7 linked regions of the Homo sapiens genome follow. The protein of the gene in region 5 purifies or fractionates together with the protein of the main gene of each other region. This does not show direct contact. Each region holds a gene or a part of one and is shown on either strand. Other genes may lie near its edges.

The links.
Region 1: the proteins of CEP250 (region 5) and HNRNPR purify together in Homo sapiens (affinity purification with mass spectrometry, with the first as the bait; one large-scale study listed by BioGRID). This does not show direct contact.
Region 2: the proteins of CEP250 (region 5) and CEP78 purify together in Homo sapiens (affinity purification with mass spectrometry, with the first as the bait; one large-scale study listed by BioGRID). This does not show direct contact.
Region 3: the proteins of CEP250 (region 5) and CLSPN purify together in Homo sapiens (affinity purification with mass spectrometry, with the first as the bait; one large-scale study listed by BioGRID). This does not show direct contact.
Region 4: the proteins of CEP250 (region 5) and HBA1 purify together in Homo sapiens (affinity purification with mass spectrometry, with the first as the bait; one large-scale study listed by BioGRID). This does not show direct contact.
Region 6: the proteins of CEP250 (region 5) and CALU purify together in Homo sapiens (affinity purification with mass spectrometry, with the first as the bait; one large-scale study listed by BioGRID). This does not show direct contact.
Region 7: the proteins of CEP250 (region 5) and EIF4ENIF1 purify together in Homo sapiens (affinity purification with mass spectrometry, with the first as the bait; one large-scale study listed by BioGRID). This does not show direct contact.

The regions. Positions count from the first base shown.
Region 1 is NC_000001.11:23,309,785-23,313,284, forward strand, and holds part of HNRNPR (heterogeneous nuclear ribonucleoprotein R), read right to left. Parts: intron 1,539-3,500; coding exon 1,417-1,538; intron 1,283-1,416; coding exon 670-1,282; 3' UTR 1-669. UniProt on the Homo sapiens protein: Component of ribonucleosomes, which are complexes of at least 20 other different heterogeneous nuclear ribonucleoproteins (hnRNP). hnRNP play an important role in processing of precursor mRNA in the nucleus.
Region 2 is NC_000009.12:78,274,075-78,277,132, reverse strand, and holds part of CEP78 (centrosomal protein of 78 kDa), read right to left. Parts: 3' UTR 1-3,058. UniProt on the Homo sapiens protein: Centriole wall protein that localizes to mature centrioles and regulates centriole and cilia biogenesis. Involved in centrosome duplication: required for efficient PLK4 centrosomal localization and PLK4-induced overduplication of centrioles.
Region 3 is NC_000001.11:35,759,979-35,763,478, forward strand, and holds part of CLSPN (claspin), read right to left. Parts: intron 3,344-3,500; coding exon 3,182-3,343; intron 2,504-3,181; coding exon 2,426-2,503; intron 2,093-2,425; coding exon 2,020-2,092; intron 1,227-2,019; coding exon 1,118-1,226; intron 939-1,117; coding exon 364-938; intron 1-363.
Region 4 is NC_000016.10:175,287-178,022, reverse strand, and holds HBA1 (hemoglobin subunit alpha), read right to left. Parts: upstream 1,344-2,736; 5' UTR 1,307-1,343; coding exon 1,212-1,306; intron 1,095-1,211; coding exon 890-1,094; intron 741-889; coding exon 612-740; 3' UTR 501-611; downstream 1-500. UniProt on the Homo sapiens protein: Involved in oxygen transport from the lung to the various peripheral tissues.
Region 5 is NC_000020.11:35,454,122-35,458,397, forward strand, and holds the start of CEP250 (centrosome-associated protein CEP250), read left to right. Parts: upstream 1-1,476; 5' UTR 1,477-1,630; intron 1,631-4,182; 5' UTR 4,183-4,253; intron 4,254-4,276. UniProt on the Homo sapiens protein: Plays an important role in centrosome cohesion during interphase. Recruits CCDC102B to the proximal ends of centrioles. Maintains centrosome cohesion by forming intercentriolar linkages.
Region 6 is NC_000007.14:128,745,859-128,749,358, forward strand, and holds part of CALU (calumenin isoform a precursor), read left to right. Parts: intron 1-1,694; exon of another isoform or gene 1,695-2,496; coding exon of another isoform or gene 2,497-2,509; intron 2,510-2,714; coding exon of another isoform or gene 2,715-2,725; coding exon 2,726-2,946; intron 2,947-3,500. UniProt on the Homo sapiens protein: Involved in regulation of vitamin K-dependent carboxylation of multiple N-terminal glutamate residues. Seems to inhibit gamma-carboxylase GGCX. Binds 7 calcium ions with a low affinity.
Region 7 is NC_000022.11:31,458,843-31,462,342, forward strand, and holds part of EIF4ENIF1 (eukaryotic translation initiation factor 4E transporter), read right to left. Parts: intron 1-3,500. UniProt on the Homo sapiens protein: EIF4E-binding protein that regulates translation and stability of mRNAs in processing bodies (P-bodies). Plays a key role in P-bodies to coordinate the storage of translationally inactive mRNAs in the cytoplasm and prevent their degradation.

The sequences.
Region 1 (3,500 bases), on a different chromosome or scaffold from region 5:
ATGTTTTGAATAGATTTTTTAGTTTTATTGAAATCTTACATGAACAAGAAATTGGAAATACAATCACATCAAAGAACAAATTGTCACGGCTTTTGACGTTTAAGCCAAACAAATTTTGTAGGGCAGATTTCAAAAAGGTGTGAAGTTATAACAATTTAAAAACACAGTTAACCTACTTCTAGGAATGCAAAACATACAATCATAGGTTATTTTCAATACAAGAAAACTTAAATTTGTTTGCTTTAATTTCTTAAAACTACTAAGACAAAGCACTAGCTTGTATTTTTATTTACAGCATACTCCATACTCCTATGTAATCTATCCCAAATCCAAAAAAATGAAACTGTCCAAAACCAAAGGTTCTGCAAAATCATGATTTAACAGTGTGCCCAGCTTGTTTTGAAGCTAAAATGAAGCCTGAAACGATAAAAGCATTGTAATCCCCAGAATAAGGGAACTCTGCAAGCCCAATAATGTCCAAGAGCATTTATGAAAAGAGGAAAAATAAAAAGACTTGAGTATATACACAATAGTGATTTCTTCAGCCCAATACAAATGGCAGCAAAATGCTACTTAAAGATGAAACAGTTAAGCCAATTTTTTTTTTTGAAGAATGTAGATCTAGAGCCAATCGTATCTTGCCAGTATCATTTTCAAGCCCTTACTTGTCTACTTCCACTGTTGCCCATAAGTATCCTGATAAAATTCCTGGTTGTCATTATTGTAACCATAGTTACCAGAATAGTCACCACCTTGCTGAAGCGGCTGCTGAGCGATGGGTTGGGAACCCCAGTTCTGTTGGTTGTTGGTCTGACGACGCTTGGAATCAGGCTGGTTGTACCCATCTGCCTTTCTCTTGCCTCCTACATTGCCCCCACGATTGCCCCGAGATCCACGGGAACCACGGCCTCTCTGCTGTTGAGCAGGACCCCCTCTGCCACCCCTAGAGCCTCTTGGTGGTCCCAAAGGTGCCCCCCTCTGTGAATAGCCAGCTCTACCTCTTGGAGGTGGTGCTCCCCTCCCCCTTGGTGGTGGTGGAGCACCTCGCCCTCCCCTTCCTCCTCCTCTTCCTCTTACTGCATAGCCATCATCATAGCCGTAGTAGGGATCTTCATAGCCTCCACGATAGTCGTGATAATCATAACCATAGTAATCATCATAGTAATCTTCATAGCCGTAGTAATCTGGAGGGTAGCCATATCCACCTCTCCCCCCACCACGACCCCGACCTCTAATTGGAGGTGGCATGCGAGGAGGAGGGTGGTAGTAATAATCTTCATACCTAGCAAAGTAGAGAAGGGAGAAAAGAAAAAACAAATCAGTTTGCTTCAAGACTCTGATTTTGTTTTATTAATCTGATCTCCATTATCACGTTATTCCTTGTCCAAAGATATATCTACTAAAATGTAGACTCACGCAGTGCTTCTGGAGGCCTGTCTAGCAGCTTGGCGCTCTTTCCTTTTCTTGTCTGGTGGCTTGGCTAAGACTATTTCAATTTCTTCCCCTTCTATTTCTTTGCCATTCATTTCATCCATAGCCTATAAAAAATTAGAAAAATTATTTTACAACGATATAAAACTGTATTTTGTTTTATATAGTATGTAAGCTATTATACTTGTGTAATTTAATACACTTAACAATTTACTTCACAATTATTTTAAATGGCAAAAGGTGAATCTAGCCAGAAAGTTAAACACAAACACACAAAGAAAATACGTTTCCCTTGACCTTATCTTTTTATACATAAATTACATTTAGAACAAAACCGACCACCTGATATTATATTTTAAAAGGTAAAAGGGCTGCCACCTATTGCTGCTCCTTAATTCCAAATAACTCCTTAAAAGATAAGCCATACCAAAGAAGCAAATCCATACCGGGGAAAAATGCCAGTATTAATACGAGCCAGACAAAGATTAACTTCTCAGGATTAGAATTTTAAAATAAACATGTAGCATACAACATACAGGTCTTCCACTGTTCTTATACGACAATTTCAAGGATTTGAAGCACAAATGAGGTTACTGAGTGAGATTATCTGTAAAATTCAAGAAGATACTAACACAAAAAAGCCTAGGTTTCCCTCACAATGCTTAACCCAAAATGTACTTTGCTTGAACAGTTAAAAGTACAGAGCCAGAAAAGGCCTGGACTAATGAAGACTCAAGCAATTATGTAGAAAGCAGTAATCAAACATTCCATGTTCTAGCCCTTTGTTCACGTTGTTCCACCTAACAACCTCTGCCATACATCAAAAGGTTCAGGTACTCAGTAACAAAATGTCACCTCCTCATGATATTTTATTTTTTGTTTCCCTATACCTTTCCCCACTCTGGGCACACATAAAAAAATGTTCTATTGGAGCTATCAGTGATTTATAAGTATCTAGACAAAAACGAAACTAGTCCTCAAGACTGCAATTTTCCCTTTTACCACCTCAGCTTTGCGTTGCTTCAGTTAAAGCAACTAAACAAGTTTACAAAAGCTTCCTGGCATAAATTAAAAAATGAAACATCTACCCTCTGCCCTGACCATCCTGGTGACTCCCAGTTCCTGGACTAGATATTTTATAATTTCATAGGCTTCTTTGGCAAACCATCCTATAAATATTTTCAATCAGGACAACCAGTTATTTGAAACCAGTCGAGTCAGGAGGAATATTTAGACAGCATAAAATTATTAGTTATCTGCATTCTATACCAGTGAAATTTCAGAAGCCACAAATGAACGGATAAGAGTATAACAGCATAACAGATAAGACTCCATACTTCAAAGCCAGATTATTACTGAGTTTGTGATCTTGGACAAGTTATGAATTTTATGAACAATACTGCCTCATTAATTAGCTACCATCAATGAGCAAGCCAATTAATTATAAACCAATCAGGGATTCTATAAAGCCTGTTTTAAAAGCAGTAGCCTGGGCAAAAAACAAAACCAAAAAATGCTCAGATTAGAGATGGCAGTATCCCACCGACCAAACATGCAGAAAAAGAACCATGCCTGTGTCACTAAGCATTCTGGATCTATCTTCCTAATAACATAAATAAGATTTTAGTAGTGTTTTGTCTTGCTCCCACCCCCCCAAGGAAGGAGAGATGAATAAAAAAAAGAAACTGAAAATTTCACCCATTAAAGATAGTCCTAAACCATTGTCGATAGAAAGCAGGTTTTGTGTTCCAGATACCATATGAAAATACTTTCTTCAAACTTTTCATTATCATCAAAGACTAAATCAACTATTATACACAAGTGATATCTCTAACAATTACCGAAATCAGTAAAACATAGTGAATGCTATTTTAACTCTAAAATGATTAAATAAAGGTAAAACTAATCATACCCTCAAAATCTATCTACTCAATTAAACATGGTATACTGTATGAGTCATGTACACCACTCAGTTTCCTTCATAGGTACACAAACTGAGGTCAACTAAGTAGTTATAATGCATTCATTACCTATTCAGTGTTTACAGCAGCTAATTTTTATACCTTGTA
Region 2 (3,058 bases), on a different chromosome or scaffold from region 5:
AAAGTAGTAAATAACCTCAACATCATTTACTGAATAGTTCAAACCCTTCTCTACTGACTTGTGATGCCATTTTTTAAATACATATATATATACATTGCTCTGTTCCTAGGTTCTCGGTTCTATACCTGTGATTATTCCTGTGTGAACAGCACATTTACCCTAACTCCATGGATTGTTTTGAGATGTAATCAAAATTGCTTTATGCCTGATGACTTTCAGATTAATGTTATAATCAGGTTATTACATCCATTTAAAAAGCTTTACTGTGGTTATATGAAATTGCTTTGAATTTATAAATTAATTTGGTAGAACTATTTATTATGTTGGGTCTTATACATGGCATACCTCTATTTTTGTGTTTCTTTTATACCCTCTAGCATAGATTTATCCTTTTATTTATATAGGCCTTACATTTCTCTTGTTAATCTTATTTCTAGATAATATTTACTTCTCGCAGCTATTGTGGATGAGAGTCTATTTCCTCATACATTTTCTAATTGGTTATTGCTGGTGTACACACTTTTCATACCGGTGTGTTGGTGTTGTGCACAGCCTCCTTATTCAGCTTTATTAGCTGTAATAGCATGCCAGTAGATCATCACAGGGGGTTTTTTGTCCAAAAAAAAAAAGACCCCATATTTACAAATAACGAGAGCCTTGTCTCATTTCCCAAAATGTGTACTTTTTAGTACCGTTTTTATCTTAGCAAAAACTTTTCACCAAGTTTGTTTCCTGTGGATTTCTGTTAGGTATATTTAATGAAGCCAAGAAGCTAAGCTAAGGAAGTTTCCTTCTATTTCGAGATTGTTAAGAATACCAGAGGATGTTGAATTTATCACATACTCTTTCAGCTTGTGAAGATGACTATACTTCTTTAATCTGTTAATTTAGTGAGCTACAGTGAGTTACTCTTCACTCAATCTTGCATGTTTTGGTACAAATCTTCCTTGAAAATGATATATCTTTTGCTACAATGCTGAATTCAAACTGCTAGTTTTATTTTGGATTTTTTGCACCTACATTAATTGAATTTGGTTTAGTTTTCCTTGTGTTTTATTTGTGCAGTTTGCTATAAGGATTACGCTAACCGTATGGAATGAATTAGGGAGCCTTACATCTCTTTTCTATCCTCTGGAATGGTTTACAAATAAATGTGCCCCTGGAAGGTTTTTCTTTTTCTCTTCTTGAGTCGGAGTCTCACTCTTGCCCAGGCTAGAGAGCAGTGGTGGCATGATCACAGCTCACTGCAGCCTCGAATCCCGGCCTCAAGCGATCCTCCCACTTCAGCCTCCTGAGTGGCTGGGACTACATGCACGCACCACCATGCCTGGCTAAGTTTTGGGTTTTTTTGTTTTGTTTTGTTTTTTAATTTTTGTAGAGATGAGGTCTTGCCCAGGCTGGTCTCAAACTGCTGGTCTCAGCAATGTTCCCACTTTGGTGTCCCAAAGTGCTGGGATTACAGACATGAGCCACCACACCTGGCCCCTTTAAAGTTTTTCTAACTGTATTTTTTTTTTTTTTTTTTTGGAGACAGAGTTTCCCTCTTGTCTCCCAGGCTAGAGTGCAACGGTGTGACCTCAGCTCACTGCAACCTCTGCCTCCCAGGTTCAAGCGACACTCATGCCTCAGACTCCTGAGTAGTTGGGATTACAAGTGCCCGCCACCAAGCCCGGCTAATTTTTGTATTTTTAGTAGAGACGGGGTTTCACCATGTTGGCCAGGCTGGTCTTGAACTCCTCATCTCAGGTGATCCGCCCACCTCGGCCTCCCAAAGTACTGGTATTACAGGCATGGGCCACCGCACCTGGCCTCTTTTTAAAAATAAGTTCTTGTCCTATTTTTTCAATTTCTCCTAAGATGTTTCGTTTATTTACATTTTCTATTTTTTATCAATTTTTACAATCCATATTTTTAAACAGTCACATTTCATCTAGTCTTTCAAATTTATTGGTTTAACACTACACAATTATTTATAGTAAATTATAAAAGTGCTCATAATTAAAAATATCTCTTCTAGTTGTAGGTATCCTTCTAAAATTATTCCTAATGCTGGCAATTTTTGTTAATTACTTCTTGCTTTTTTTTCTTTATCATATTTTACAAAGGTTTATCTTTCATTTTTAAAAACCTGTGTTTCACTGATCAAAATTTGCTATTTTATTCATTTCTGCTTTTACCAATTCCTCACCTTTCTTTTGGTTTATCTCTTTCTTAGCTTTAAATGTTTAATTCATCTCTTTTGTCTTCTTTCTTCCTGGAAAGTAAATCAAAATCTATACAATTTCCTCTAACACCTCTTTGGTAGAATTCCTCAGCTTTAGAGAAGTTTTTATTAATTCTAAATAATTTGCAATTTATTTTGATTTCTCCTTTAAATGAGTTATTTAGAAGATCATTTAAAAATTTCCAAGTGGACAGGCCTTTTGTTACTATTATTACATTATACAGAGCACATGATCTGTATGATCTTTGAATTTTGTAAGTTTTTTACCTTCATAGGAATCATTTATATGAATGTTCTATTGGTTTTCCAGGAGAATATACTTTGTATTCATCATGGATACAAAATATTTATGTTCAATGGTATCCTTCATATCCTGATCTACTGATGGGCAAGAGGGATGAATTTTTTAAGCTCTAATATTATTATAGAGTAAAACTAATTTTTTTGAGAGTATGCAGTTCTATAAATTTTAACATATGTATAGACTCACGTTACCACCACCGCAATCAGGATACAGAACTGTTCATCACCAAAACAAACAAACAAACAAACTCCCTTGTACAGCCTCTTTGTAATCAACTCCTCCCAACCCCAACACCTGGCAATCTCCAATCTGTTCTGTCACTATAGTTTTGTCTTTTCAAGAATGCCATATAAATGGAATCATACAGAATGTAGCCTTCCGAGACTGGCTTTTTCACTCAGCATATGATGTTGAGATTCATCCGAATTGTGGCATGTTTGCCACCATATGGATACATCGCTATCCATTCACCTGTTGGAAGACATCTTGGTCACTATGAATGGAGCTGCTATAAATATCCACGCACAGGT
Region 3 (3,500 bases), on a different chromosome or scaffold from region 5:
GCGTGCCACCATGCCCGGCTAATTTTTGTATTTTTAGTACAGACGGGGTTTCACTGTATTGGCCAGGCTAGTCTCAAACTCCTGACCTCGTGATCTGCCCGCCTTGGCCTCCCAAAGTGCTGGGATTACAGGCGTAAGCCACCGCACCCAGCCAACAGACTTCCATTTTAAACATGGCTTAGATCATTCTGATACCCTGCCAAATTTCTCTAAAAAAGACTCTGCCCATATCTGGAACAACTGCAGGATAAGATCAAAGTGGTTATTGGTTCCTCCTGTGTTCTCTGTCCTCGACAGTAGTCAATAATCAAAAGCTACCAGGATAATCACTCCAGGGAGGCTCCCCACAATGTAAAGGATTACCTCTGTTGGTTTCAGGTTCAAGTATCACAAAGGAATCTTCATCAGCACCTAGCCGTGGTTTAATGGAAACATCTACTCCCAGTTGCTTAAGTCTATCCAGAGTAAACCGTCTCACTTTTTCAGGTGGCCCAACTGCTGATGATTTATTTTGCTGCTCAGGCTCTTCCACTTTCTCATCTGTTTCTTCTGGATTTTGGGGGCCTTCACCCTCCAGGGCATGAGGTTCAAATGCTACAAGCCCTCCAACCTGACATTCCTCACTGTGATTGTTCCCGAGGAAGTTGGATTCCTGTTGCAACACTGAGCTGTCCCCAGGTGAAGGTCTAATGTCACTCTGCTTCTGTTTCTCCTGAATTTCTAGCTCTTCATTTTTTACCAAATCCTTCCTGCAAGACTCATCTGATCCAGTAATGATCTGGGTTTCCTTTGAAACTACAGGGAGTGCATTAGTTTCCACTTCATTTTCTGCACCTGTTGTCTGCTCAGAACCTTTACTATGGTGATCACTGTTCATTTCAGTAGTATTTGCAGTGTCTATGATTTCTTTGTGATGGCTTGACTGATATTTAGATGACCTAGAGAAGAGAAATTGAGCTGGAGTTGAAAATTATCCTAAATGTGAAACATTCTCATCCCTTAGTATATATCAGTTAAATCAGTTTTAAGGGAGTGAGAAATCTGAACTTTTTATGCCAGATGTTTGCTACAAAACTAAATGTTCATGAAAATTATAATAAGGAAAGAGGGTTCTTACTTCAATAGTGCCATGGCATTTCCGTGGCAAGTGGGCCGGGGTTTACGTTTGAAGAAATCATGAATGGTTTTATTCTCAGGCATATGATATGGAAGGTTCAGTGCAGACTCTATAAAATGGAATAAAACAAGCAAATATATATACTGTATATTCTGAAATGTCACTTCATATTCAGTTAACTAAACATAATAACCAAAGCCATCACTAGAAATAGAAAACTCCCCTTTAACAAAGGCAGAGGAGCTAAGTACAAAAAAGCTCCCTGAAGACCAGTGGCTTTTAAACCTAGATGTGAAATCAAAATGATCCAGGAAGTTTTTTAGAAATACAGATTCTTGGATCCCATTTCGAATCTACTGAATCAGAATCTCTGTGGGACCTAAACATTTATATACAGTAGTCCCCGCTTATCCAGACAGACACATTCCAAGACCTGCAGTGGATGCCTGAAACTGCAGATGGTACTAAACCATGCAGTGTTTTTTTGATCTGATAACTGAGAGGGCTACTAACGGACTAACAGGCAGGTAATGTATACAGCGTGATACTCTGGACAAAGGGATGATATTTTTAAGTTCCATGGACCATGGCTGACACAGGTAACCAAAACTGCAAATAGGGAGGGATTACTACCTCTCCAAAGAATCCTGACACAATCAGTCCATAGACAACCATTAAAAAATTTCCTCCTTACCTGCACTACAGTTCTGAAAATTTCTTCAGTTTATACTAATGTTCCAAGGGCTTTAGAACAATGGCCTTTCACCAAGATCAATTCTAAACTTAATATTATAACCTGAGTTCACATTAGAAGTGTTAAAAAAATAAAAGTCCCCAACATCCAAGTTGAGCTTACAAAGAAATGTTGTGATTTTGCCTCAAAGTTTACTGGGTTGCATTACCTCGAATAAGGCGCTGAGTCTCACTATGCAGTTGTTTTAATGCTTCTTTACTTAATCTGGCTGCCTTTCTTTCCTTAAAGAAAACAAGAAGTGAGACTACATTAATTATATGAATATCCAGAAAGATAGATATTCATCACTCAAGAGTTTGCTCTCTCCAAGAAAAGAGGAAAGGAAATAGTAAGCATGAGTAAGCCCAAATGCAGTATAAACTCAAGGAATTCATTTATTCCCAAGTCTCAGAGAATTTGTTCAATCCAATCCATATTTTGTTCCTACTATGTACAAAGCAATATGATGGGTAACAGAAAAATATGATAGACAAAATAAAATATTTATCCCTAAGAAATCTATAATCTCCTGTGTAAAGAGATCAGTGTGACTAATATACAGGGCTCTACCTCACCTTCCTCGTGGTTCCTTTTGATAACTCACTTCCTTCCTCAAATGAATGGACCCCACTCTCCAAAGATGGTTCTTTTTTCTAAAAGAAATGGCAGGTTGATTAGGACAAAAACGAAATTCAAATAAGAGGATGCTTTAGCTGAAGACTACTTTTGTAGTCCAACACCACATCATGCTACATTAATAAATCAATAATCATCAACTAGAAATTATTAAACACACAGCATCCTATTATGCTTAGAAAACAGATACCTCAGATGGAGTCTGGACCCTTATTTCTTTTACCTCTGCTTACATCTTTCCCTAAAGAGGGATAATAACTCGCAGGAAGCTAAAAAAAAATCTTAGGAAGAAAAATTATGCTTCCAAACACTCGGGACAACAATGTTTTGACTGATGCCTCTCTTTGATACCCTTCCTGAAACCCTATAGGGTTCATTTCTCAAAGGCTATAGGATTGCAAAATTTACATCTCTTCCCTATTATTTACCTGCATCTTACTACACCATCAAATATCTTAGTGGTTTTTTTTTTCAGCATTCCTAAAAGGGTAATAACAAAACACTAGTTTCCAAAGAAGTTAGCATGTCTATCACTTGTACTGCAAGTCTCCAAAATTAACAGCTGAAACACTTAAGTCAACTGACACAAGTTTTTCTTCAGTTAAAAAAAAAATTAAGGTTCCAACAGTAAATTAAAAATATAGCAAAGGTCAGAAGCAGTTGATTAACTCTTATTGCAATCATGCTTTACTTGCCTTGTGCTTTTTTACTTTGTTTTTTACAGCTGCTCTTATTGATTCTAATGACTCTTCATCTTCCAATGGAGAGTTATTTTCATCCTCCAACCCAGTTTCAAAAAGGTCTTTATCCACAAGAAGACAGCCACTGTCATTAAATGGCTGTTCTACATCATCTTCCTAAGTAATACATAAACAAAAAGCATAATCCAATCATTTAAAAATCCAGTATTTCACAACATCATATGGCAATTTGGATCAGGCCAGAAAAAGCCCATGTTTCATCAACAGACAAGCATATAAAATCTAGAACATTCTTACTGGTTTCTAACTCACA
Region 4 (2,736 bases), on a different chromosome or scaffold from region 5:
CAGTTGCACCCCGCACCCCTGATTTCATCTAGACTGTGCCTGTATCTGGGAGGTTTTACGGAGACTAGTGGGAACGATGGGGGATCAATGCAGCCATGCTGGAGTGGGACTTCTCTGACCTACCCACCACCCATATGTGGGAGGACCTCTGGGAAACCAGTGACGTCCCAGGCAGAAAGCCAGCCAGTTCTTGGCACAAGAGTGCCCAGAAACGTAAAGATGGATAAATTCATTATTTCAGCAAACCTGCATTGAATCTGAAAAGTCTGGGAATAAAACTCGGGAAAGAGCAAATGCATCCTCAAAGCACTCTAGGGTCCAGCGTTTTTCCAGCTGGACTTCGCGGTGGCTCCACTTTCCCTCCTCCATCCCCTCCTCCCGCCCCTGCCTTTTCCTACCCTATCCAGCTGCAGAGAGGTTCTAGCCATGTGTGTCCCAGCTGCTGTCCACGCCCATGCCTGGCACGTTTGCTGAGGGAAAAAACTCAGGCACACACAGGCTGCCGCCCACTCAGACTTTATTCAAAGACCACGGGGGTACGGGTGCAGGAAGGGGAGGAGGGGCTGGGGGGAGGCCCAAGGGGCAAGAAGCATGGCCACCGAGGCTCCAGCTTAACGGTATTTGGAGGTCAGCACGGTGCTCACAGAAGCCAGGAACTTGTCCAGGGAGGCGTGCACCGCAGGGGTGAACTCGGCGGGGAGGTGGGCGGCCAGGGTCACCAGCAGGCAGTGGCTTAGGAGCTGTGCAGAGAAGAGGGTCAGTGGGGCCGAGGGCCCAGGCCCGCAGCCGCCGCCTGCGCTACACCTCCCGCAACCCGCGTGATCCTCTGCCCTGCGAGGAAGGCGCCATCTCGCCCCTCGACCCAGATCGCTCCCGGCCCGCCGCTCACCTTGAAGTTGACCGGGTCCACCCGAAGCTTGTGCGCGTGCAGGTCGCTCAGGGCGGACAGCGCGTTGGGCATGTCGTCCACGTGCGCCACGGCGTTGGTCAGCGCGTCGGCCACCTTCTTGCCGTGGCCCTTAACCTGGGCAGAGCCGTGGCTCAGGTCGAAGTGCGGGAAGTAGGTCTTGGTGGTGGGGAAGGACAGGAACATCCTGCGGGGAGAAGCAGAGTGAGGGGTGGGGTTTGGGTCCGGGGCCAGGACGGTTGAGGGTGGCCTGTGGGTCCGGGCGGGCGAGGAGCCCGGGTCGGAGCAGGGGAGGGAGCCTCACCTCTCCAGGGCCTCCGCACCATACTCGCCAGCGTGCGCGCCGACCTTACCCCAGGCGGCCTTGACGTTGGTCTTGTCGGCAGGAGACAGCACCATGGTGGGTTCTCTCTGAGTCTGTGGGGACCAGAAGAGTGCCGGGCCGCGAGCGCGCCAGGGTTTATGCTTGGGGCGCGGGGGCACGCCCGGCCGGGCGGCGCTCATTGGCTGGCGCGGAGCCCGGGGCGCGGCCTGGACCGCAGGGGAGTCCCGGGCGGGGCCTGCGCGGGGCCGGGCGGCGGGCTCGGCCTCCCCTGGGGGTGCACGCGGGGCGGGGGCCAGGACGTCTCCACCCTCCACCCGCCACTCCACTCCCGCCCATCCCGCTCGCCCGGGGGCAGGGCGGTAGCGGCGCTGGCGGGGCCGGCCCGTTGGGGTCGGGCGCTGTCGGCTCGTGCACCCCGGAGCGCAGCGCCACCCTTTCCTTTCGGGCGCCGGAGCGTCCCTAGCGAGGGAGAAAGTCAGCCCGCACCCCCGCCCCGGCCTGGCACGCGCTGGACGCGCATCGACTCCAGCGGGATCGGGGAACACACGGGCGAGCGAGTGCGAGCCGGGAGGCTTCGCCCAATCCTGGGGCGGAGAGGAATGCGCGCACCCGGACGCCCTGGCCCATAGGAACTCAAAAGAATTTCTGCGCAGAGCCCCTCCTGCTCTCCAGCCTCGCTTCCTGCAGCTCCCTTTCCCTCTGGCGATAGTCACTAGTGTGCTTGAGTGACAGGCACCGGGAAGGAATAAACACCAGGACGCAAAAAGCACGGGGCTGGGCTGGGGGCGGCTCCAGATTCAGACTCCTCTACCCGGGGTTGTGGGGTGGCGCGTGGGGTGGTGGGTGCTGGCTAAGCCCCAAGTCATGGACTCACAGTTTGTGTGACTGACTCTCCCACTGGCCTAGAGGTCGTGGTTCACTGTGACACCCCCAGCTCTCCAAATGCTATCTGATGGAAGACTTGCTAGGTAAATACTGGTTAAACAGGTAAACAAAGCAATAGCTGGAACCGGCTGGAGCATTCAACCTCCTCTGGGAGGTAGGCAGTCCTCTAACCATCACACAAGTACACACAGAGGTGCAGACCTCATCACAGGCCCTGAGGAAGTCTGGAGGTGTGGACGAGGCATTCAAGGTGACCAGGGTTAGTCTGAGGGCTTCCTGGAGGAGGTGAGACTTAAGGATATGTATTAGGTGGAGGAGGTGGAGGAGGGAGGAGGCTTGGCTCGGGGAGGGGAAAGGACAGAGGAGACAAGGGCCCTGTGGTTGGAGAATGGAGGTGGGGAGATGTTGGGGTGATGAGGCTGGCCAGCTCCTGCAGGGTGAGGAAGGAAGGGGTGGACTTCTGGGGAAGGGTGGGAGGTGCAGGAGTGCCAGTGGGTGCATCCCTGTGCATGAAAAGTGATGTTTTTTGGGGGGATGGTACTGAGGAGAAAACAGCCTGAGAAATCACTGATAAGTCATTTCCTGGGGGTCTGGCAGAAGATCTTGCTTTGAGGAGTGC
Region 5 (4,276 bases):
GTAAATGGAGTTTACAACTCTAAGAAAGTGCATTAACAATTTATACACAAGGCCGGGCGCGGTGGCTCACGCCTGTAATCCCAGCCCTTTGGGAGGCCGAGGCGGGAGGATCACGAGGTCAAGAGAGATCGAGACCATCCTGGCCAACATGGTGAAATCCTGTCTCTACTAAAAATACAAAAATTAGCCGGGCGTGGTGGCGGGCGCCTGTAGTCCCAGCTACTCGGGAGGCTGAGGCAGGAGAATTACTTGAACCTGGGAGGCAGAGGTTGCAGTGAGCCGAGATCGTGCCAATGCACTCCAGCCTGGCGACAGAGCAAGACTCCATTTCAAAAAAAAAAAAAAAAATTTATACACAAAATGCTACAGGAATAACGCATGGGTCCTATTGGGAAGAAAAAGTTCTCTAGAAGTCAGGCTTAAGCAGAACTGCAGCTCCGGGACGGATTAAGTCAGGTAAAGGTAACACTCTGTGCAGAGACATGCAGACAAAACCGAGTGTTGAGTAAGTAACTCGCCTGTAAGTGTTATGCTGCCTGAAGCTTCTCGGAGCGTCTGAGCAGCAAGGTGAACAACCCTCAGAAACCGGTCGCGCTGCCAGTATTATCGCTAACCAGTGGCAGCGAGCCCCTTTGTTTCTCGGCAGTTGTAATTGTAGTCTGGTTTGTAGGTGGAGCTGTGCGCAGGCGCACCTAGAACCAGGTGACCTTGCACATGCGCTGTATGTAACACTGAAGCCAAAAGCGAAATGATTGAGGGCAATTTTTCTTTTCTGCTTCCGAAATGTCCCTTTCGCGAATCCAGAGACCCTGACCGTCCCCATTTCTGGCTAGGGATCTTATAATTCTTAAAATAATACCCCCTTTCCTTCAGGGCCTCTCTAGTAAGTCGGCTGCCAATACCCAACATGGCGGGAGGCCCTGCGCCGGCTCAGTCTGCCTATAGGTGCAGGACTTGGAGGGGCGGGCCCCTCCCAAAGGGCGGGAGTTTGGGGGGGCGGGGCCTGGCCCTCTGCCTCGGGGTGGGCTCCGCCCCCGTCCCCCGCAGGGCCTTAGCAGCGGCTGCCGCAGCTCAATCGCGGAGCAACTAGCCGGGCGTCTGCGGGAGCCGAGCGTGGTGAGGTGGGGCCTCAGGGGCAGGTGGGAGGTGCTCGGGTTAACCGTCCGAGGCCCGGAGACCCGCCCGTCTAGGGCGCCTGAGGGAATCCCGTTCGGGCAGCGGCCTCTTGTTACCCGGGAGGAACCCGAGGCCCAGAGAGGGGCTGGGACGCGTCGTTAGGGCCCGGGGCCCGCTTGCCTCAGCTTCTTGCTGCCGCCAGCACGCTAAGCTCCAGTCGGCGCCGAAGGAGAGCTTCCCGACCCTCGTGTCCAGTAGCCGCAATCCCAGGCTGGGAGGGTGAGGCGCCGCGCTCTGCCGCCCCCCCGCCCCTCGCTCCCTGTGTCCTGGCGGATTTGCACGTAATCTATCCGAAAGCCCAGTCCCACCCGCCACCCGACTCTGGAGCTCCCATTCTTCAGGACCCTGCTGAAGTATCGCTTCTCAGCCGCCTTCTCCAGGCGCAGCTGCATTCGCTTCTCGGTTTTTGCACTCGCTGTGCACCGAGTTACTTTCCCGGCCCCTCGTTGACACCGTAAGCTCGTTCGTTAGATGTTATGCCTTGCCTTTTTCATCTCTAGATCCCAGGGCCTAGCACGTGATGATAATAGTCATGGCTTACTGTACGGAATGATCACAAATTGTCAGGTGCTACTGAATGCATTACACATAAGGGCCCATTTATTTATTTATTTAGAGACGGAGTTTCGCGCTTGTTGCCCAGGCTGGAGTGCAATGGCGCGATCTCGGCTCACCTCAACCTCCGCCTCCCGGGTTCAAGCGATTCTCCTGCCTCAGCCTCCCAAGTAGCTGGGATTGCAGGCATGCGCCACCACACCCGGCTAATTTTATGTTTTTAGTAGAGACGGGGTTTCTCCATGTTGGTCAGGCTGATCTCGAACTCCCGACCTCAGGTGATCCGCCCGCTTCGGCCTCCCAAAGTGCTGGGATTACAGGCGTGAGCCACCGCGCTCAGCCAAAGGCCTATTTAATCTTCCCAACAATCCTATGGGGTGAGTTCTTTCTATAGCTTCACGTTTTACCCATGAAGAAACTGAGGTATTCATAGAAAAAGTAATTTGCCAGGAGTCCCACAACTAATAAGTGGATGGAGCTGGGAAACTGTCCCCAGGGCATTTGATGACTTGACTAGATTGCCTTTGGGTTTAATCAACGTCTGTTGAATTGATCTTTACTTTGGCCCTGGGAGTTATTGGAGGCTAGGCTTGTGATCAGTATTTTACCGCGAAGGCTTAGAAAGGAGAACTGGTCCCAGATTTATAGAGGTCACAACAAAACCAAGGCTACTGGTACGCCCTCTGTTCCTTTAGTTCTTCTATCTTTCTTTGCTCCTTTTCGATCAGAAAGCTGCAGACATAGGTGTCATTATCGCTCACTATTTAAGAAGTGCCCCTCACAGAGCTGTGAGTTCGTAGTCCATGCTTTAACTAATGTAATGTTCATGCTTTAACAGCTAATGTAATGGAGAGAGTGTAGAATTTGGAATCAGATTGGGGTTCAGTCATTGCTCTGCCACTGACCAAGCTATAAGTTATATGCCTCCCCCCACTTTTTTTTTTTTTTTTGAGACCTGGTCTCAGTCACCCAGGCTGGAGTGCAGTGGTGCGATCTGGGTTCACTGGAACATCCTGTCTCCCAGGTTCAGGCGATTCTCCCGCCTCAGCCTCCTGAGTAGCTGGGATTACAGGCGCCCGCCACCGTGCCTGGCTAATTTTTGTATTTCTAGGAGAGATGGGGTTTTGCCATGTTGGCCAAGCTGGTCTCGAACTCCTGGCCTCAAATGATCTGCCCAACTCAGCCTCCCAAAGTGCTGGGATTACAGTTGTGAGCCACCACACCCAGCCTGTTTTTTTGCTTTTTATATAGGTAATAGAGCTGTTAGCATTTTGCAAGACCATTGGTGATAATATGGATCATGTTACCTAATGTCCTATAATAGTCAGTAATAATGGGCACTTGTTATAAACCAGGCTGTGTTTTAGGTAGGAGCTGGGAATACAGCATTCGATAAAACAATGCTTTTGCACTTGTGGAATTTGCATTTTGGTAAGTATATTACATAATAATTAGATAGGGACAGAAAAAGCATGGTAAGGTAAATAAAAGTACTAGTGTTATGTGGAGAGGTGATAGTATTTTATTTATTTATTTATTTGAGCATCTTGTCCCAGGCTGGAGTGCAGTGGCGTGATCACAGCTCACTGCAGCCTCGAACTCCTTGGCTCAAGCAGCCCTCCCACCTTAACTTCCCAAGTAGCTGGGACTACAGGTGAATGCCACACAGCCAGCAATTTTTTTTTTTTTAATAGAGATGGGAATCTCCCTGTGTTGCCCAGGCTGGTCTTGAACTCCTGGCCTCAAGAGATCCTCCCACCTTGGTGAAACTCTGTCTCTACTAAAAATACAAAAAAATTAGCTGGTCGTGGTGGCACATGCTTGTAATCCCAGCTACTCAGGAGGCTGAGACATGAGAATTGCCTGAACCGGGGAGGCAGAGGTTGCAGTGAGCTGAGATCATGCCAGTGCACTACAGCCTGGGTAACAGAGCCAGATCCTGTCTCAAAAACAAAACAAAACACTGGATGAGATTACCTTGGAAATTAATGGAGATGGAGAAGAGGTCTGAAGCCTTGAGGTTTCCAAACTTTAGATACTGGGGAGATGAGAAAAGGCAGCAAAGGAGACTGAGTGGGAGAGGCCAGAGGTTGGAAGAGAGCAACAGAGAGGCCCCACATGAGATTTAAATAAGGAGCTGCATGCTAATTTGTTTTTTTCAGGAGTAAGAAACAAATTATGTCTGTACACAAATGTCTATACTGTAGTTTCTTTCTCAGTAAATAAAATGTTTGTGTCCTCAAGTATTTTTCTGTTTTTGCTTTAAGTGACAAATTCTATTTAATACCATTCTGCATCTTAGTCCTTGTAGCATTTATGCCTCTATTCCAAGTTTAGGTGGTAGTGTTGCTTCTCTTTTAAACTTTATTTAAATACTCCTTTTGTAGTATTTTGGATGAGAGAGGATCAAATACATAATTTATCTCACTCTTCTGTCACTTTCCACTCCAGGTTCACAGGTGGCTGTTGGTCTTTAGTAAGGGTGCTGTCTTCCCTGTCTGATCCTTAGCAAAAGTAGGAAGGTAGGTCTTGTTCATTTCTGTAC
Region 6 (3,500 bases), on a different chromosome or scaffold from region 5:
GCAGGATACAGTATTAAAGTTCACTTTCACACCAATCTTACCAGCCCACCCCATTCCTGTCTCTTCTCCCATGAACCTTGAGGTTACCACTGTTTACACATGGGTATTTGTCTTTGCACACCATTTATGTGCATGTTATATTTTATACAAATAAAAACAAGCTGGGGAGATTGTTTAATTTTGTTTTGCTTTTTATGTAAATGAGATCTTGACGTTGTTTTGAACCTTGCTTTTTTTGTTCACTTGACATATCTTGGTGAATTTTCCATTTCACTGCAGATAGATGCATCTCGTTCTTTTTTTTTTTTTACATTCTTTTTTTTGAGGAAGGGTCTCGCTCTGTCACTGAAGTGCAGTGGTGAGATCTCAGCTCACTGCAGCCTCTGCCTCCCGGGTTCCAGTACTTCTCGTGCCTCAGCCTCCTGAGTAGCTGGGACTACAGGCGTGTGCCACCACACCCAGCTAAGTTTTGTATTTTTAGTAGAGACAGGGTTTCACCGTATTTCCCAGGGTGGTCTCGAACTCCTGACCTCAAGTGATCCTCCCGCCTCGGCCTCCCAAAGTGCTGGGATTACAGGCATGAGCCACCATGCCTGGCTGCTTTTTTTATTTTTTTTGAGATAGGATCTCTGTCACCCACGCTGGAGTGCAGTGGTACAATCTCAGCTAACTGCAACCTCCACCTGGTGGGTTCAAGCTATCCTCCCACCTCAGCCTCCTGAGTAGCTGAGACTACAGGTGTATGCCACCATGCCCAGCTAATTTTTGTATTTTTAGTAGAGACAGTGTTTCGCTATCACCCAGGCTTGTCTTAAACTCCCGGATGCAAGTGATCCGCCTGCATTAGCCTCCCAAAGTCTTGGGATTACAGGCGTGAACCACCACCCCCGGCCTCATGTCATTCTTTTTTTTTTTTTTTTTTTTTTTTGAGACGGAGTCTCACTCTGTAGCCCAGGCTGGAGTGTAGAGGTGCTATCTCGGCTCACTGCAAGCTCTGCCTCCTGGGTTCACGCCATTCTCCTGCCACAGCCTCCCAAGTAGCTGGGACTACAGGCACCCACCACCACGCCCGGCTAATTTTTTGTATTTGTAGTAGAGACGGGGTTTTACCGTGTTAGCCAGGATGATCTCGATCTCCTGACCTTGTGATCCACCCGCCTCGGCCTCCCAGTGTGCTGGGATTACAAGCATGAGCCACTGCGCCCGGCCCATTCTTTTTAACCTTTGTGTATTTTTCCATAATCGAGATTTAATATATTTTACCAATTCTCTGTTTTTATTTGTTTTCCGATTTTTTAATCATTGTGAACTGTCATCATTGAACATCTTAATACAAGTATCTTTGTCTGTAAATGTGGGTATTTTGATGGGATTGAATGAAACAATGTTGAGAAACATAGCCAAGTTCTAACATTGATAGGAATAGAGTAATAAGTACCATCTTCTACCCATTTCTCTATGGGTTTCATGGTCTTGCTTTCACATTGCTTCTTCTGATGGATTTTCCTAAGTCTTAACCTTCACGTCATCAGTAACAGTACCTTATTTGAGACTGGGGCACTTGGGAATGACTGCCCCCCAACCCCCGCCCCCATTATCTCCTTAGGTACTTTTCTGTTTGTCTTACTGTGTTGTCGTATTTACTCTAGAACACTTTCCACTCTCTACTGATATGTCCTCCTCTGCCATTTCAGGACCTCCCACCCTCCCCCACTGAGCTGCCTTCCCAGTGATGAAAGAAAAAATGTAAAAGCCTGAAAACCCTTCTTCTTGATTTTTAATTTTTTTTTTTCCCTCTAAGACCTTAACCACTCTGGATAGTATCACGGGGTATCAGTAGAGTGTGCTAAACAGATGTGTACTCTGCAGCTTCTTTGCAGGTTTTTTGTCACATTTTTCAGTCAAGTGTTCCAGCTTTGTGCTTGTTCATTAGAGTCACCTGTGACTACAGAGATTCTGAAAGTTTGAATCAGGGCCTGGGAATCTGTACTTTGAACAGTACTACAGGTGGTATTTATGCCTAGGCAAGTATGGGAAACAACTGTGCAGAAGGATAAAGACGTTCTTATCTATGACTAGACCATCTGAATGATTTGGCCTTTGAAGGTGACTCAAGGTTGAGCCTGGATGTTGGAGACTTGGTGCTATAGACCAAGGAAGCTGCCAAGTATTTCGCTGGTTCCTAATCTCATGAACATCAGAATCACCTGAAAAACATTTAAAGCTACGAATGTCTGAATTCAGCTTCAGAGACTCTAAATCAATAGGAGAAACTTAAAGCTTCCTAGATGATTCTAATAACCAGCCATGTTTGAAGACCAGACCACCAATGCGTACAAGAAGTAAAGGATTTGGAGTCAACATTTAAACCTTGGTTCTTTCACTTTTAATTCTTATGAACTTGGGCAAAAGGATTAAAATTCTACTTTGGTATCTTTTGAAAGAAAACAGAAAGTGGACATTTTAACTATAAGTTTCTTATCAGCCTACAATCAGATGAAGGAAACTGGTAAAAATTTCTCACTGTAATAATTGAAGAGTCTGATATTCCACCATACTTATTTTATGGATGAAGTAATATTTGGGATAATATAAAAGACTTGCATAGATATGTATATCAAATTAATAGTTTAACTCGGATGTGAGCTTTTAATTTCTTATTTAGTTATTAAGCATACTGCCTCCTGAATTAACTGCTTTTCATTTTCTTCAAGATCTAATTATCATGGACCTGCGACAGTTTCTTATGTGCCTGTCCCTGTGCACAGCCTTTGCCTTGAGCAAACCCACAGAAAAGAAGGACCGTGTACATCATGAGCCTCAGCTCAGTGACAAGGTTCACAATGATGCTCAGAGTTTTGATTATGACCATGATGCCTTCTTGGGTGCTGAAGAAGCAAAGACCTTTGATCAGCTGACACCAGAAGAGAGCAAGGAAAGGCTTGGGTAAGGTACCACCTCTCAGGGGTCTAGTGTGGGTAATGACATTCTTTATAAAGGCTAATTCTTTTCTTTTCTGGCTCAGTTATGAGTAAAGTTATATTGAACTATTAATACATCTTCTGAAAGCTAACCATGGAATTACTACCTCTAAAATTTCATTAAATGCCTGATTTCATACATTTTTAATTGAATAACAGTTGGTGCCTCATTCTACAAAGCATCATTTTTGCATAAAAGTACCAAGTACTGCAAGACCCAACTTGAACTGCATTATCTTGCTACCAGAAGAACATAGCATGGGGGGATTTCTCATCTCTTCTCATCTCTACTGCTTTTAATTTTTAAAAACTATCTGTGCCCTACTGACCTGGCACAAGCCAAGTCTTTGATGGGCTAATAAACGGCACATTGGATCCCTATAAAGTTTATGATTTCCCGAGGTGTCCTTCACCCTCTTTATTTTCATTCTCAGATATTTGTTTAATTAAAAAACAAAAATCAAACCAACTTTGTCTTTTAGAAAATTGTAACTTAATGTCTGAGTATGAGTTACTGTT
Region 7 (3,500 bases), on a different chromosome or scaffold from region 5:
TAAAGCTAGAATACCAATGGGATGTGGGGAGGATTATGGTTCCCTTCGTGGGAACTTCATATTTTCTATAGTGGAGGGGGGTCTTTTTTTTTTTTTTTTTTTTGAGATGGGGTCTTGCTCTGTTGCACAGGCTGGAGAGTAGTGGCACGATCACAGCTCACTGTAGTCTCTACCTCCTGGGCTCAGGTGATCCTCCTGCCTTAGCCTCCAGAGTATCTGGGACCACAGGTGCACACCACCATGCCTGGATAATTTTTTAATTTTTTGTAGAGACTGAGTCTCGCTAAATTGCACAGCCTGGACTTAAACTGCTGACCTCAAGTGATCCTCCTGCCTTGGCCTCCCAAAGTGCTAGGATTACAGTAGTGAGCCACTGTGTCCAGCACCATGCCTAGTTCTTTTTCTAGTGATTTTTTTTTTAAAGGATAGTCTTTGCAAGTCTCTTACTGCTTAAAAATGGAACCAAATTAATTTAGCTCTGCTTCTGCCCATGCACCTGTAGCACCACTTTCAGTCAGGGCTCAGCAACCTAAGGTATTTATGAGAAACCTGGCATGAGGGCAATTTTCACTTGCCTACAGGTTGGTTGTTGTAGCTCATCCTTCAAGGCGAAATTCAAATGTGACCTTCTCTGGGAAGCTTGCCCTGCCTACCCATTTTTGCCCTACCTAGTAAAATTAATTGCTACCTTCTCTATAATCCTTATGTCATCTCTGAGTACTTGTCACACTGTATAATAGTAACTCTCTGGTGAGGCTAAACTCTGAGGGTAGGGAACCTGGTCTAACCAGCTTTGTCTTACTCTGTAGTGCCAGGTATACTCTACAATGTTCAGTTGTTTTTAGGATGGGGAGACAAAGTGAAACTGCCAGATGCTAACATTTAAGGCATCTGACATCTTAGTTTTTAATGTTTTTATTTATTTTAAATACATAGCAAGGGCAACCTAGAGACATTCTGTAGTTAGCTAATGGGATGAACCAAGACCCCTGGATTCTACTCCAGGCTCTGCCATGAAATCCATCCCTTCTCTCCAGGTCTCAATTTCTCTCTGCATCTGTAAAATAAGGAGGTGCCACTACCAATCTATCTCACTCCTGACTCCTGCACTTGATACAAGAATGGTTGAAATTCAGATTTCACCTCACTTAAGAAAAACATAATTTTTTCTCACCAGAAGCCTGATCTTTATCGTTAAAGTGGTGCTTTATTGGGTGCTGCTTTAATTAAGAATGAGACAAAGACATATCTCAAAGCCAATTTAATAGCAAAGTCTTCCAAGTTACCTATCAATTTCTTACATTATCCTAGGGAACACTGTGTGATAGCACAAAGATAATGGTAATATGTACTATATTTTGAAGACTACAAAAGAAGATGAGTATTTTGATTCTCCATTTCCTTCTCCTTCTAAATAAATGCCATCAGCTTATTTCTGCTTATATTTGTCTTCATCAAAATGTTAAGGTGGCACTGATTTTTCCCTTATTTATTAAAATAGCTTTCCCAGACCAGGCGCAGTGGTTCACGCCTATAATCTCAGCACTTTGGGAGGCTGAGGCAGGTGGATCATGAGGTCAGGAGATTGAGACCATCCTGGCTAACACGGTGAAACACCATCTCTACTAAAAATACAAAAAATTAGCTGGGTGTGTTGGCACGCGCCTGTAGTTCCGCTACTCCGGAGGCTGAGGCAGAATTGCTTGACCCTGGGAGGCGGAGCTTGCAGTGAGCCAAGATCGCACCACTGCACTCCAGCCTGGGTGACAGAGCGAGACTCCGTCTCAAAAAAAAAAGAAAATTAATTAAAAAAAAAAATAGAGGACTGGCGCAGTGGCTCACGCCTGTAATCCCAGTACTTTGGGAGGCTGAGGCGGGTGGATCACGAGGTCAGGAGATCGAGACCATCCTGGCTAACATAGTGAAACCCCATCTCTACTAAAAATACAAAAATTTAGCTGGGCGTGGTGGTGGGCGCCTGTAGTCCCAGCTACTCGGGAGGCTGAGGCAGGAGAATGGCGTGAACCCGGAGGCGGAGTTTGCCGTGAGCTAAGATCGTGCCACTGCACTCCAGCCTAGGCAACAAAGCAAGACTCCATCTCAAAACAAACAAACAAACAAAAAACAAAAAAAAAGGCTTTCCCCTTTTGTTGCCTAGTATCTGCCAAAAGGCTTTCAACTAAGCCTGAAAGCTTGAGGCAGGTAGAATTTACTGAGTGCCTTCTTGGAGGCTGAGTTCTGATGGGTACATGTGTTCTTCAATGCTAAAGGTAACCCTTAAGTTATGATAGGCATTGTTCTTCCCTTTACAAAGAAACAGGCCCAGCTGTCAAAATTTTGTCAAAAATTATCCTTTTCTAAGCAGGAGCCCTAGTACTTTAACCCAGGTTAGTCCCCACCTGGCTCTACAGTGCCTCCTTCCCAAGACCATCAGCCTGGGACTGGCCACCTTAGAGCCAGGTCACTGCCCTAAAAAATGATTGGCTGCAGACCAATGGGCTCCCACTCTGCAGCAGGTACTTCACACACATTAGCTCTGGCTCCTTCAGTTTAGCAAGGGAGATATCTGACCCCATCTTACAGCTGAGGAAACTAGGTTTTTTTGGTTTTTTTGGAGACAGAGTCTCAACTCTGTCTCCCAGGCTGGAGTGCAGTAGCACAATCTCGCTGCAACCTGTCTCCTGGATTCAAGCAATTCTCCTGCCTCAGCCTCTCCAGTAGCCGGGAGTACAGGCATGCGTCAACACACCCAGCTAATTTTTGTATTTTCAATATAGACAGGGTTTCACCATGTTGGCCAGGCTGGTCTCAAACTCCTGACCTCAAATGATCCACCCGCCTTGGCCTCCCAAAGTGCTGGGATCACAGGCGTGAGCCACCGTACTCATCCTGAAACTAAGTTTGAGAGAAGGCAAATCACAAACAACTGACCTGGGAAGGCCTAATACCATGATGAAGAAGGTAGGCTCTGATGCCCAGAAGCATCTTGCTTTACTCTTGACTTCACTACTTATTTCCATGGTGACTACCTTAAGTGTCCTTGAGTTACTTAAGCCCTCTGAGCCTCCATTTGCTCATCTATGAAATGGGCATAAAAAAGTACCTACACTGCACAAGGTCATTAGGAGATGAAGGATTACACAGACAAAATACACTCACCACTGTGTTTAGGACATAATTGCTCAATAAATGAGACCTCTCATTTTTCTACCACGTTTCTTATTTCTGGGGAACTCTTTCATGTACACAGTCCTCTTACAGGATAACTTCAGACTTTTCTGTTTAGTGTGGCAGGCAGAACGAGTTAGGGAAACAGTATGATCTACACTTAGTGAATCCTCACTTAAGCAGTTGCAGGGGCTGGGCATGGTGGCTCACACCTATAATCCCAGCACTTTGGGATGCCGAGGCGGGTGATCACCTGAGGTCAGGAGTTCGAGACCAGCCTGGGCAACATGGTGAAACCCCATCTCTACTAAAAATAGAAAAAATTACCCAGG